Regions from separate parts of the Homo sapiens genome. Here region 1 is linked to region 2. Evidence: fine-mapped expression QTL. A gene starts in region 2. The other region holds a variant in brackets. All regions are shown on one strand. Distances are between the middles of the regions.

Region 1 (5,374 bases), 41 kb after region 2:
AAAAAAAAAAAAAAAAAGAAAAAAAAATACCTGAGACTGGGTAATTTATAAAGAAAAGAGGTTTGACTCACGGTTCCCTAGACTGTACTGGTAACATGGCTGGGGAGGCCTCAGGAAACAAAATCATGGCAGAAGGCGAAGGGGAAGCCCGCACATCTTACATGGCTGGAGCAGGAGGAAGACAGAAGGGGGAGGTGCCACACTCCTTTAAACAACCAGAGAACTCACTAGCACAAGAGCAGCAGGGGGCCGTTCACCCCCAGGATCCAATCGTCTCCCACCAGGCCCCTCCCCCAACACTGGGGATTCCAATTCCACGTGACACTTAGGTGGGGCAAAGAGCCAAACCATATCAAGCATCATCTGCTGCCTGTTTTTATGGCCAAAGAACTCGAGTGATCTGGATCTTTGGATTGCTGACCTTTAAATAACTCGGACTGTTGTTCTGTGATGGAATCTGGGGGATGGTGGTGGTTGGCAGGAAACACTAATAACCTGTAATCAATCATCTCTCCCCTCTTCTAACACCTGTGATTATTCCTGTGTAGGCAAGAAAAGGTGTACTATATAAGGTATTCTCAGTTATCCTTTAAAAAGACTAATAAAATATGTTAAAATGTTATCTCTCGAGGGGCTCCTGGTGATTTCGAATTTCTTTGTCATATATTTTTCTGTACTATAAAAATCTTGAGTGTGCATCCCTTCAAAACCAGAAATGTACTATTTTTAAAAAATTAGTACATAGAACTTAGCATCTGAGTGATGACAGTTATATTTTAAAAGTGAAATCGGCCATGCGTGGTAGCTCACGCCTGTAATCTCAGCACTTTGGGAGGCCGTGGCAGGTAGATCACCTGAGGTCAGGAGTTCAAGACCAGCTTGGCCAACATGGTGAAACCCCGTATCTACTAAAGAAAAACACAAAAATTAGCTGGGTGTGGTGGTGAGTGCCTGTCATCCCAGCTACTCAGGAGGCTGAAGCAGGAGAATCACTTGAATTCAGGAGGCGGAGGCTGTAGTGAGCTGAGATCGCGCCACTGCTCTCCAACCTGGGCGACGAGTGAAACTCCATCTCAAAAAATAAAAAATGAAAGTGAACTTAAAGGCCAGGCACAGTGGCTCACACATGTAATTCCAGCATTTAGGCTGAGGCAGTTGGATTGCCTGAGCTCAGGAGTTCCATCCCAGGCTGGGCAACATGGCAAAACCCCATCTCTACCAAAAATACAAAAAGTTAGCCGGGCATCATGGTACCCACCTGTGGTCCCAGCTACTCAGGAGAATGAGGTGGGAGGACCACTTGAGCCTGGGAGGTAGAGGTTGCAGTGAGCCAAGATCACGCACCACTGTACTCTAGCCTGACAGAGTGAGACCCTGTCTCCAAAAAAAAAAAAGAAAAGAAAAAAAAAAGTGAACTTAAAGCTGAAAGAAAACGCACAGAAGTCTTGGTGGGGGCTACCCAGAGTAGGTGGACCATATGGTTTTATTTTCTGTATATTTAGGGATCTTTTTACCATTTTTTTTTTTACAATGAGCATGTATTTCTATCACTTTAAACATGAAAATGCATTAAAATTTTTTTGTTGAAAATAGAGCTCTCTTGTCCTGCTTGTGGGGACAGCCCTGTGAAATATCTTTAGTTCTTATTTAATTGCATTTTACTGGACACAGTCATGCCTACTTCTTTACATTAGTTTCCTGTTTCCTGCTGTAACAAGTCATCACAAATGTAGTGGCTTAAAATAGCACACAATTACCATTTTGCATTTCTGGAGGTTAGAAGTCCAACACAGCTCTCGGGGCTAAAATCAAGAAGTCGGGGCGGAAGGGCTGTGTGCCCTTCCAGAGGCCTCAGAGAGAAGCTGCTTCCTCCCCTTTTCCAGCTTCTAGAGGTCACCAACATTCCCAGGATCGTGGCCCTGTTCCTCCATCTTCAGCAGCAGCAATGTGGAATCTCTCTGATCGATCTTTCTGTAGCTTCGTCTCCTCTGACCACAGCAGGGAATGCTTTGCCATGCTTTAAGACCCATGTGATTAGGCGGACCCTCCTCCTCGGATGACCCTGGATAAACTCCCCATCTCAAAGCCCTTAATTATGTCTGTAGAGTCCCTCTTGCCACATCAGGTGCTATACTCACAGGTTCTGGGGTTAGGCTGTGGGCACTGGGCATCTTTGGGGAGCCATTATTCTGCCTGCCACATTCTCCAGCGACACACTGATGAAGCACCTGCCCAGGTAAGTGCTATTCCTACCTCATACTCCCCAGTGAGTGGGGTTAGCCCTGCGCAGTGAGTGGGGTTAGCCCTGCCCAGGAAGCAGGGTCTGATGCGGCTGAGCTGGTTACAGGCCTTGCAGACTGCGTGGCCACCACGGTGACCCAGCACCCACCATCCACCCAGTCTCCTGCGTCGCTGTTCTGGAAGCTCTGCCGCGGTGCTGGATGGCTTCACCCGATTTCAGCATTCGGAAGCTCCCCTAGAGGTCCCTCATTCTGCCCCATCCCTGCCCCAGCTCTTGCTATTGTTTGCCTTTATCCCTTTTTCCTACAGGAAGAACCAGATTCAAACATTT[G/T]CCTGCTGGCAATAGTGTTTCTGAGGAAGACACTGTGAGGGGAACTGCGGGCCGAGCCTGCTCTGAGCGCAAGATAGTAGGAGAGCTCTCTGGCACACAGCTGCCTACTCTGTCCCTACTCTCCCCTGGGAGAGAATCCCTGGTGTAGACTTAGTCCTAATCCTCAGAAGAGCTCCCCCAGTGTGTGATGTGGCTCTGCCAAAGATCGTGAGAAAGTGGAGATCCAAAAACAAGTATTCTCTGGGCAGCACAAGCCAGATAAAGTTGTTCTCAAGTTGGCTCTGGCTGGGTTTGTGGAGGGCACAGAGGCTTTGACATGTGAGCTTGTAAAGATGCTTTCTTTCCCATCCCAGGGAGCTGCCCAAACCTTCCTCGCTGCTGAGGCCGTGTCCTCAGCCCAGTGGAGCAGCAGCAGTGGCCACTGCCTGCGTGACCCTGCTGAGACCTGTGCTCGTAGTCAGATGGGATGTTCTGAACTCCTGGAAGCCAGAGGTTATAGTTTTTTAAAGACTAAAAAAGGAATATTGTATTGTGTAAAACAGAAAAGGAAGGGAAGCACTCATTCTCCCATTCCCTTATTGATCAATTTGGGCTTGTTCCTGTCTCTAAAATCTGCATGTGTTTTATACTGGAAGACCCTGGAGCGCAGGCTTTCATTCCATGCAAATGTACCTGCTCTGTACCAGGCACTGTTCCAGATGCCCCGGCTGCAGCCATTAAAGCAAAGATTCAGGAATTTGCATTTGTGTGGAGTCATTAGACAAGCAACGAGATGAGAGTGCCTGTGAGGTGATCAAGTGCTGGTTACAGAGAAACTTGGAGGAGAAGTCGGGTGCTGCCTTCCAGTGCTCAGGCAGGGTGCGCAGAGAAGGGGATGCCTGAGCAGAGACCTGGCAGAGATCAGGGCTGAGACACCTGCCCGGCTGTGGACAGAGCTCCAGGTGCTGTCTGGCCCAGGGCCCAGTGGAAGCACCTGGCCCTGCAAAGAGGCTCCAGCCACCAGGATGGCTGAGAGAACTTGGGTGGGTGAGGCAGGAGCCAAGGCCAGGGAAGAAGTGGAGGGCCGGTCAGGTGGGGCACAGAAGGCACTGGTGATTGCTTTGACTTCTCAGCAGAGGTGTGAGCCATTGAGGGGCTGCCAGCTCAGGGTGATAAGGTCTGGCTGACTAGGGAAGGAGGAAGGCAAAAGAGGTGGCTGTGGCCCAGTGGGGAGGTGTGCAGGGGCTCTAGATCTGGGTGTATTTTGACAGTGGAGCTGCTATGATGTCCTGACAGAGTGAATGTGGAGTTAAGAGAAAGAGGGGTCAAGAATGATAAAGTTTTGGCCTGAGCCAAGGTGTGGAGTTGAGGTAGAAGGTGGGACTTGACTCCGGAGGCAGGGCTCAGACACCGGGCCAAACTGAGGACTAGCTAAAACAGGTTATAGGGGAAGCAGTTTTCCAGAAAACACACCCATCAGTGTGCCATGTCAGTTTACCATTGCCATGGCGACACCCAAAAATTATTGCGCCTTTCCATGGCAATGACCCAGTGATCAGGAAGTTACCACCCTCATCCTAGAAATTTCTGCATAAACCACCCCCTAATTCATGTATAATTAAAAGTGGGTGTAAATATTAGTGCAGCCCTAAATCTGAGCTGCTCCTCTGGACACACTTCCTGGAGAGTGCCCTGTACCGCAAGGAGCAGTGCCTCTGCTGCTCCTGGATGCTGTGGCTTCAATACAAGTTGCTGTTGAACACCACTGGGTAGCTCTTGAATTCTTTCCTGGGGGAAGCCAAGAACCCTTCCGGGCTAAGTCCCAATTTTGGGCTTCACCTGTCATGCATCAGAGTTGCCATCTGGTTGTATCTAAATTGTTTTATCTCTGTGCCTGTGAATGACACAATGCTGTTGTTTCTCCTTTATTGGGGATTAGGGAAAGCAGAAAGGTGGAAGAAGGAGATGAGAGCCTCATCCAGAGCTGCAGGGCCAGGCTGAGGGCCAGGGTGCCTGGGTTCCCTAACAATGCACACCCCTCCCTTTAAATTTCCTATTTTGTGGGCACAATGGTTCACACCTGTAATCCCAACACTTTGGGAGGCTGAGGCAGGAGGATTGCTTGAGCCCAGGAGTTCGAGATCAGCCTGGGCAACATAAGGAGACTCCATGTCTAAAAATATAATAATAGTAATTTTCTTATTTTGTGTGTTTTATCATATATGCAATATATTAGTACATGGAATACATGTATGTACATTATTAATACATGTGCACAGCCAGGGTTTGTCCTCAGCTTTGTTTCAGTGATAAGGAAATAGGATTGAAATAGTTTGGAGACCGTTTGCTCTAGTAATTTCCCTGGGTTCAACGTCAACATGAGGAGTTTGACAGGGATTTATGAGAAGCCTTGGAGGCTGGTCCATGGTTAGCCACACCCAGACCTGTAGGCACAATGTCTTCAAGATCTGATGAAGTCTGACGCTACCTCCTGAAAGGGACACCCTCAATCCTGGCCGTCTTCCCTTCAGCTATTTTTTGGGTGGAGCAGAAAAGAGGTTTAACTGGCGGGTGAAATTGCACATACTTCACAGGTGGTGTCTCTCTTCTTTGGCTGGCAGTAAGGGAAGGAAGGCCCTCTGCAGCATAAAGCACACTCATCATGCCTAATCAGCGCAAGCAGGCAGGAAACAAGTGGAGCCTATCAGAAGGCAGAGTTGGACACTCCTAGCATGAAAAAAGCATTCAAAGTATTTATTCACTTATTTTATTAGAGACAGGGTCTCAATCTGTTGCCCAGGCTGGAGTGCAGGGGCATGATCA
Region 2 (5,374 bases):
TTATGGAAGGAAAACTACATTTGTTAAATCACATTATCGTAAGTTAGACAAAGATCATATTCATATTTTAGGAGTAGATTCCATTCTTTCATGGCTAAAGTTTAATCTAGAAATACATTTTCCCCACAAACTATCTAGTTTCTCCAGAATTAACATCTTTCTCACCAAACAATAGTGTTTCTACTATACCAGCATGCTGGATGATCTATGAAGAGTTTATACTGTGTATCACATTTACTGACTCGGTAAGATCACACTGTCATATCATGATGTATTTATTAATTTCTCACACTCCCATTTTGAATTCCTGAGATTACCTGTCAGGATTTAAAAAATAGAACAGGCTGAGTGCAGCTCATGCGTGTAATCCCAGCACTACAGAGGCCGAGAAGGGAGGATCACTTGAGGCCAGGAGTTCAAGACCAGCCTGGGCAACATAGCGAGACCCTGTCTCTTAAAAAAAAAAAAAAGAGGTTTTTAATTAGTTGCTTGTGGTGGCACATGCCTGCAATCCCAAGCACTCTGGGAGGCTAAGGCAGGAGGATTGCTTGAACCCAGGAGTTCCAGGCTGCAGTGAGATATGACAGCACTGCAGCACTTCAGACTGTGCTACAGATGGTCTCTTAAAAATAATAATATAAAAACATTGTTTCTCCCCCAGATTGGTAACATTTTATCCTCCAAATAATCAGAAAAGTTGAGAGCTTTCCAAGTCTCAAGGGGTGATGGGGGAGGAAACAAGACTTTTGAGAGACCATAAAAAAATCTGTGTGATGTCTGAATACTGCCATAAAAGGAAAAATAAGCCCTCAAAACTTGTGAATACCAACATTTAAAACAATGGGGCTATGTCAAATGAACTCAAATTCTTTCCTACTTAAACTGTACAAACTAGCTGTAACTATCAACTTACAAATTTTGTTTCTGAATCTGTACCTAAGAAGCTTATTTCCCCTCTTAAATGTGTAACTTCTTTTGTTTTTTCTTCTTGCTCAATCTTCTGGGCATTCAGAATATGTAACTTATTTCTGACACAGCACAAATGACCCACTTATGGCTTCAACTTTCTGAAAGTCGGTCGTTTTTAGAAAAATGATCATTCTTTAGCCAGTCTACCTACCACTGAAGTAGTTCCATCTCCAACTTCTTTGTCTTGCAGATCAGCCAGCTCACAAAGAACTTTAGCTGCAGGATGTTCTACCTCCAGTAACTTCAGGATGGTTGCACCATCGTTAGTAATGGTTACATCCTAAGAAATTCGCAGGAAAAAATATGAACCACTTATAGAAATCAACACAGCCCCATTATAATACACGTTCACCTTTAATATCACCTTCCAGTACGTGGATTCTGATAAAGTCAAAGAAAGAACATAGCAAAACACTGAAGATAGTTTTACTTTAAGGAAACTAACACAACAGTTATGTGTACTTACACCAATATCATCCACCAACATTTTATCCAAGCCAACTGGACCAAGAGAACTTTTTACAATATTGGCAATCGAAGCTGCAGCCATAACTGTAGACAATCAATTAAAAATAAAAAAGAAATGAGGATAAGCCACAACTCTGAAAGACAGTAATTTCAGCCTAAAGGTAAATGACATCCAACAGCCCCCGTATTTCCCAAATCTACAAATCTGTGTTAATTATTTAAAAACCACCTACTAAGAGTGTAAATGGGGCCAGACACTGTGGCTCACAGGTGTAATCCCAACACTGCGAGGCCGAGGCAGGAGGATCGCTTGATGCCAGGAGTTTGAGACCCCTTTGGGCAACATAGCGAAACCCATTTCTACAAAAAATAAAAACAAAGCCGGATGCGGCGGCGCGGACCTGTGCTTGGAGAATGCAGTGAGCTATGATGGCACTCTCGTCTGGGCGACAGGTGGGACCCTGTCCCTAAACAAAGCGAGCCTATTTGGCACAGCTTTGATGCGGGGTGGAATCTGATGGCGGGGAAAAAAAAAAAAAGTAATAACCACCAATTTCATGCTCTGCCACTTCGTACAGCTATACCAGCCTTTTCCTTCAGATTCTGCAAGTTTTTTGCTCATTAAAACTCTCTTTATCTGTGAGGAGAGAAATCGGTAGTCAACGGGGAAGGTGGTGACTTTCAGATTTGTTTACGAAAAAAATTAGGAATCTATCAAGAAACAGTAAGCTCTGTAGGTATCCAAAGGCCTGACAGCAAACGCTCTGCTAAGTTAGCGCTGCCGTCTCCTGGGGTCAATGCACTCGAGTGGCGTTTCCTGGGCTAACTCTACTGTAAGAAGCTGTCAACCCGGATACGGCTGGACGCCGGACGCCCGACCTCGACTGCAGCTGCGGGCGGACAGGGCACCGGGCTCATCCGAGGGCGCGCGGATGGACCTACTCTTTTTCTGGTAAATGGTCCTAAAATAAAACCTGGCGTTTAACATGGACACTCAGGGGGTCGCCCTGAAACAAAAGGGGGTGCGAGGCGTGGCCCGCACGTGCGAGCCCGGGAGGCCCGCTTTCCCGCGGAGGGCGCGTTTCCAACGCCGCCCCGGACACCACATCCACGCGTTGCCGGTCTCAAAACCCTGCCGCGCGCGGCGGGGCTCCTCCTCGCTGTGGGAAAAGTGGGGCCACAGCGCCCTGCCCCAGAGAACGGCGGGTGGGCTGGGTCCGGCTGCGGGGCCCCGAGGCCCTTTCTGCGGAGGTAAAGGAGAGAAACGAGGGCAGCCGGGGTCCGGTCGCGGTGGGACTCGGCCCTCCCCGGCCGCAAACCCGACCCAGGCCCGGCCCGCCCTTACCGTTTTGGGAGCGGATCGTTTCCCCAGTGCTGCGGTCACCGAACACGGACAAAGGCCCCTCCATCTTGACGGCAGCGATACACGTCGAATTCTGCTTACACCGCGGGCAACCAGTATCGCGGCCCCTCGGCCGACCGGCGACCACAGCAGTGGCTGCGACGGCGTGGAGCGTACCCGAGCGATGTCCCAGGAGCTACTGGGTAACACACCACCCCACCCGCTTCCCGGCTGCCCCGGCCCGGCCGCGGGGCACGGCGGGAAGGAAAAAGAGGCAGGGACAACAGGGAGAGAAACAGGACTGTGACGGAAGTGAGGCTCCGGGGAAGGGGCGGGGTCGGCATTTTTGTCCAATTAGATAGCCGATGGGAAGGGCGCGAAAGCGGAGAACGGAAGTCGGATGTTGGACCGCTGGGAAGAGGTTGAACCTTCGCCTCAAACGATGTTGCGCAGACGCAGTGGGCCATTCTAGTGCCTTCTAGAAAAGGTTGTAAGAAGGGTGGAGCTTGGAGCTGGGGTGTAACTGGAGGGGCGGGCCCTTCTCCAAGTTAGAGTTGGGGTTCTGAGCGAGTCGTGCGTTTTAGGTTTAGTGTCTTTTCCTTGTCCCTGCTCGGGGAGCGTGAGGCAGATCGGCCGGCTTTGCTCCAGGCCTCAGGAGTGTAAGTTTAAGGGCGCGAACCTGGGTGGGACGGGGCAGTTTTTCCAGCGGGCCATACGGGAAAATTTTTGGTTCGAGGAAGACAACCACCCTTTTTAAGGAGAAAACTGCATCTTGCCCTGCCTTATTCCTACGCGGTGCCCAGGTGGGGTGTGTGTGGACCAGTCGATGACCGCCCAAGCTCTCCGAGTAGAAAACCCAAACATGGTTTTGTGGGGTGTGTGCCTTTGACCCCGGACTTAAGCAACAAGCGTGGTCTTGGGCGTAGCTACGAGGTGGTTGGTGGGCTCCAGGGCCTGCGTGCCCCTCGACGTGAGCGATGATTGGCGATGAAGGATAACAGATCGCCTTCTCGGCCACTCAGTGGCAGGGGACTTGCTACTTCCGGGTCGGTGGCGTCTGGCGTGGAGAGTTTGGGGATCTACAGCAGCCAAAGGCTTGTCCCTGACTTTATATGGCTGCTCCTGGCGAGCGACTGAGTCGTCCGTGAGGAAAAAGAGGCGAGGCTTTTCCGAGATCGTCTCAGCGATGGCGCTTCGGTCGCGGTTTTGGGGGTTGTTCTCGGTTTGCAGGAACCCTGGTAATTAGTCTTGCCCCCCTTCTCCCAGCTCACTCGCCTGGGCTTGCACAGTACATTGGAACGTGCGGGTTCTATTTTGTATTCGACGTGCCGGATCGAAATAGAGCTCGCGGCACTGCGAAGACCACAGTAGGAAGTTAAGGACGGGGTCAGTGCTGACTCCACCCTGTGGGCATACGTATTTTTCGTCCCCTCGGGCCTAAAGATTGGGGGTGTAAAAGCGGATAGACGTTAGAGCGGGTTCGTGCGCTGTCCATATCCGTCATTTTTAAGCCCTGTGCGGTTTTTCCCGTTGCCCAGGGTGCAGGTTCGCAGCCCTGTCAACCAGCTCCGAGCCGGCAGCGAAACCTGAAGTGGACCCTGTGGAAAATGAAGCTGTCGCCCCAGAATTCACCAACCGGAACCCCCGGAACCTGGAGCTTTTATCTGTAGCCAGGAAAGAGCGGGGCTGGCGGACGGTGTTTCCCTCCCGTGAGTTCTGGCACAGGTAATTAAATCTGCTTGTGATTGACAAGGGCAGTGCACCCTACAGACTATTTTCATTCATTCAACTCCAGGCACTCTCCCAGGTAGCTGCCATGCGGCGGGTAGAGGCAGGGTTCGCGGAGGGGCTGGAACAAACAACAAATAGGTGTGATGGGGGCTATTTAAAGAGGATGTTACAGTAGCGGACAGGATACCTGCCTGTCTGAGGTGACATTTAAGAAGGTGAGATCTGAAAGAGGAAGAAGCCTAGTCATCTGCCAGAAAGAGCAGTCCTAGCAAAGGAAACTGCTGGGGTGAGGAACTGAAGGGCTTGTGGATCTGAAGCTCAATGGGCAGAGGATGAATGGCCCAAGATGAACATGGAGGGGTAAGGAGGCGACAGATGATTAGCTTTGTAAGTCAAGATGAGCACTTTAGACTTTCTTTTCATTATAGTGGGAAACTACGAGAGGATTTAAAGCTTGAGCCCGAATTGGTTTTTCAAGATCATTCTGGCTGGGCGCATTGTCTCATGCCTGTAATCCCAGCACTTTAGGGAGCCAGCCGAAGAAGCCGGATCATCTGAGGTCAGGAGTTTGAGACCAACCTGGCCAACATGGTGAAACCCCGTCTCTACTAAAAATATAAAAATTAGAGGGGCGTGGTGGTGCACGCCTGTAATCCCAGCTACTCCAGTGGCTGAGGCACGAGAATCACTTGAACCCAGGAGGCGGAGGTTGCAGTGAGCTGAGCGCCTGGGCGACAGAGCAAAATTCTGTCTCAAAAAAAAAAAAATCATTTTAGCTGCTTTTTGGAAGATTAAATTTTTGAGGGAGCAGGACTTGAAGAAAGACCAGTTAGGAGTCTAGTATGACTTGAGATACTTTGTTAT

The links. PIP is the estimated chance that this variant, and not a neighbour inherited with it, causes the effect.
Region 1: its variant is the best candidate, but not a certain one, in a credible set for the expression of TCP1 in whole blood (INTERVAL, PIP 0.58).

The regions. Positions count from the first base shown.
Region 1 is chr6:159,827,975-159,833,348 of GRCh38, forward strand. No RefSeq gene overlaps it. Among named protein-coding and RNA genes, the nearest start is that of PNLDC1, 30 kb to the left of the region's middle. RefSeq lists an enhancer at 2,531-3,264. The variant G/T (reference allele first, on the strand shown) is at 2,573.
Region 2 is chr6:159,786,623-159,791,996 of GRCh38, forward strand. It overlaps TCP1 (t-complex 1), which reads right to left and starts at 2,980. Exons shown (of 12, transcript NM_030752.3): 1 at 2,783-2,980; 2 at 1,436-1,521; 3 at 1,121-1,249. The coding sequence starts at 2,846. MRPL18 (mitochondrial ribosomal protein L18) reads left to right here and starts at 3,845. Exons shown (of 4, transcript NM_014161.5): 1 at 3,845-4,017; 2 at 4,318-4,504. The coding sequence starts at 3,966. RefSeq lists enhancers at 2,178-2,842, 2,843-3,506, 3,763-3,942, 3,973-4,032.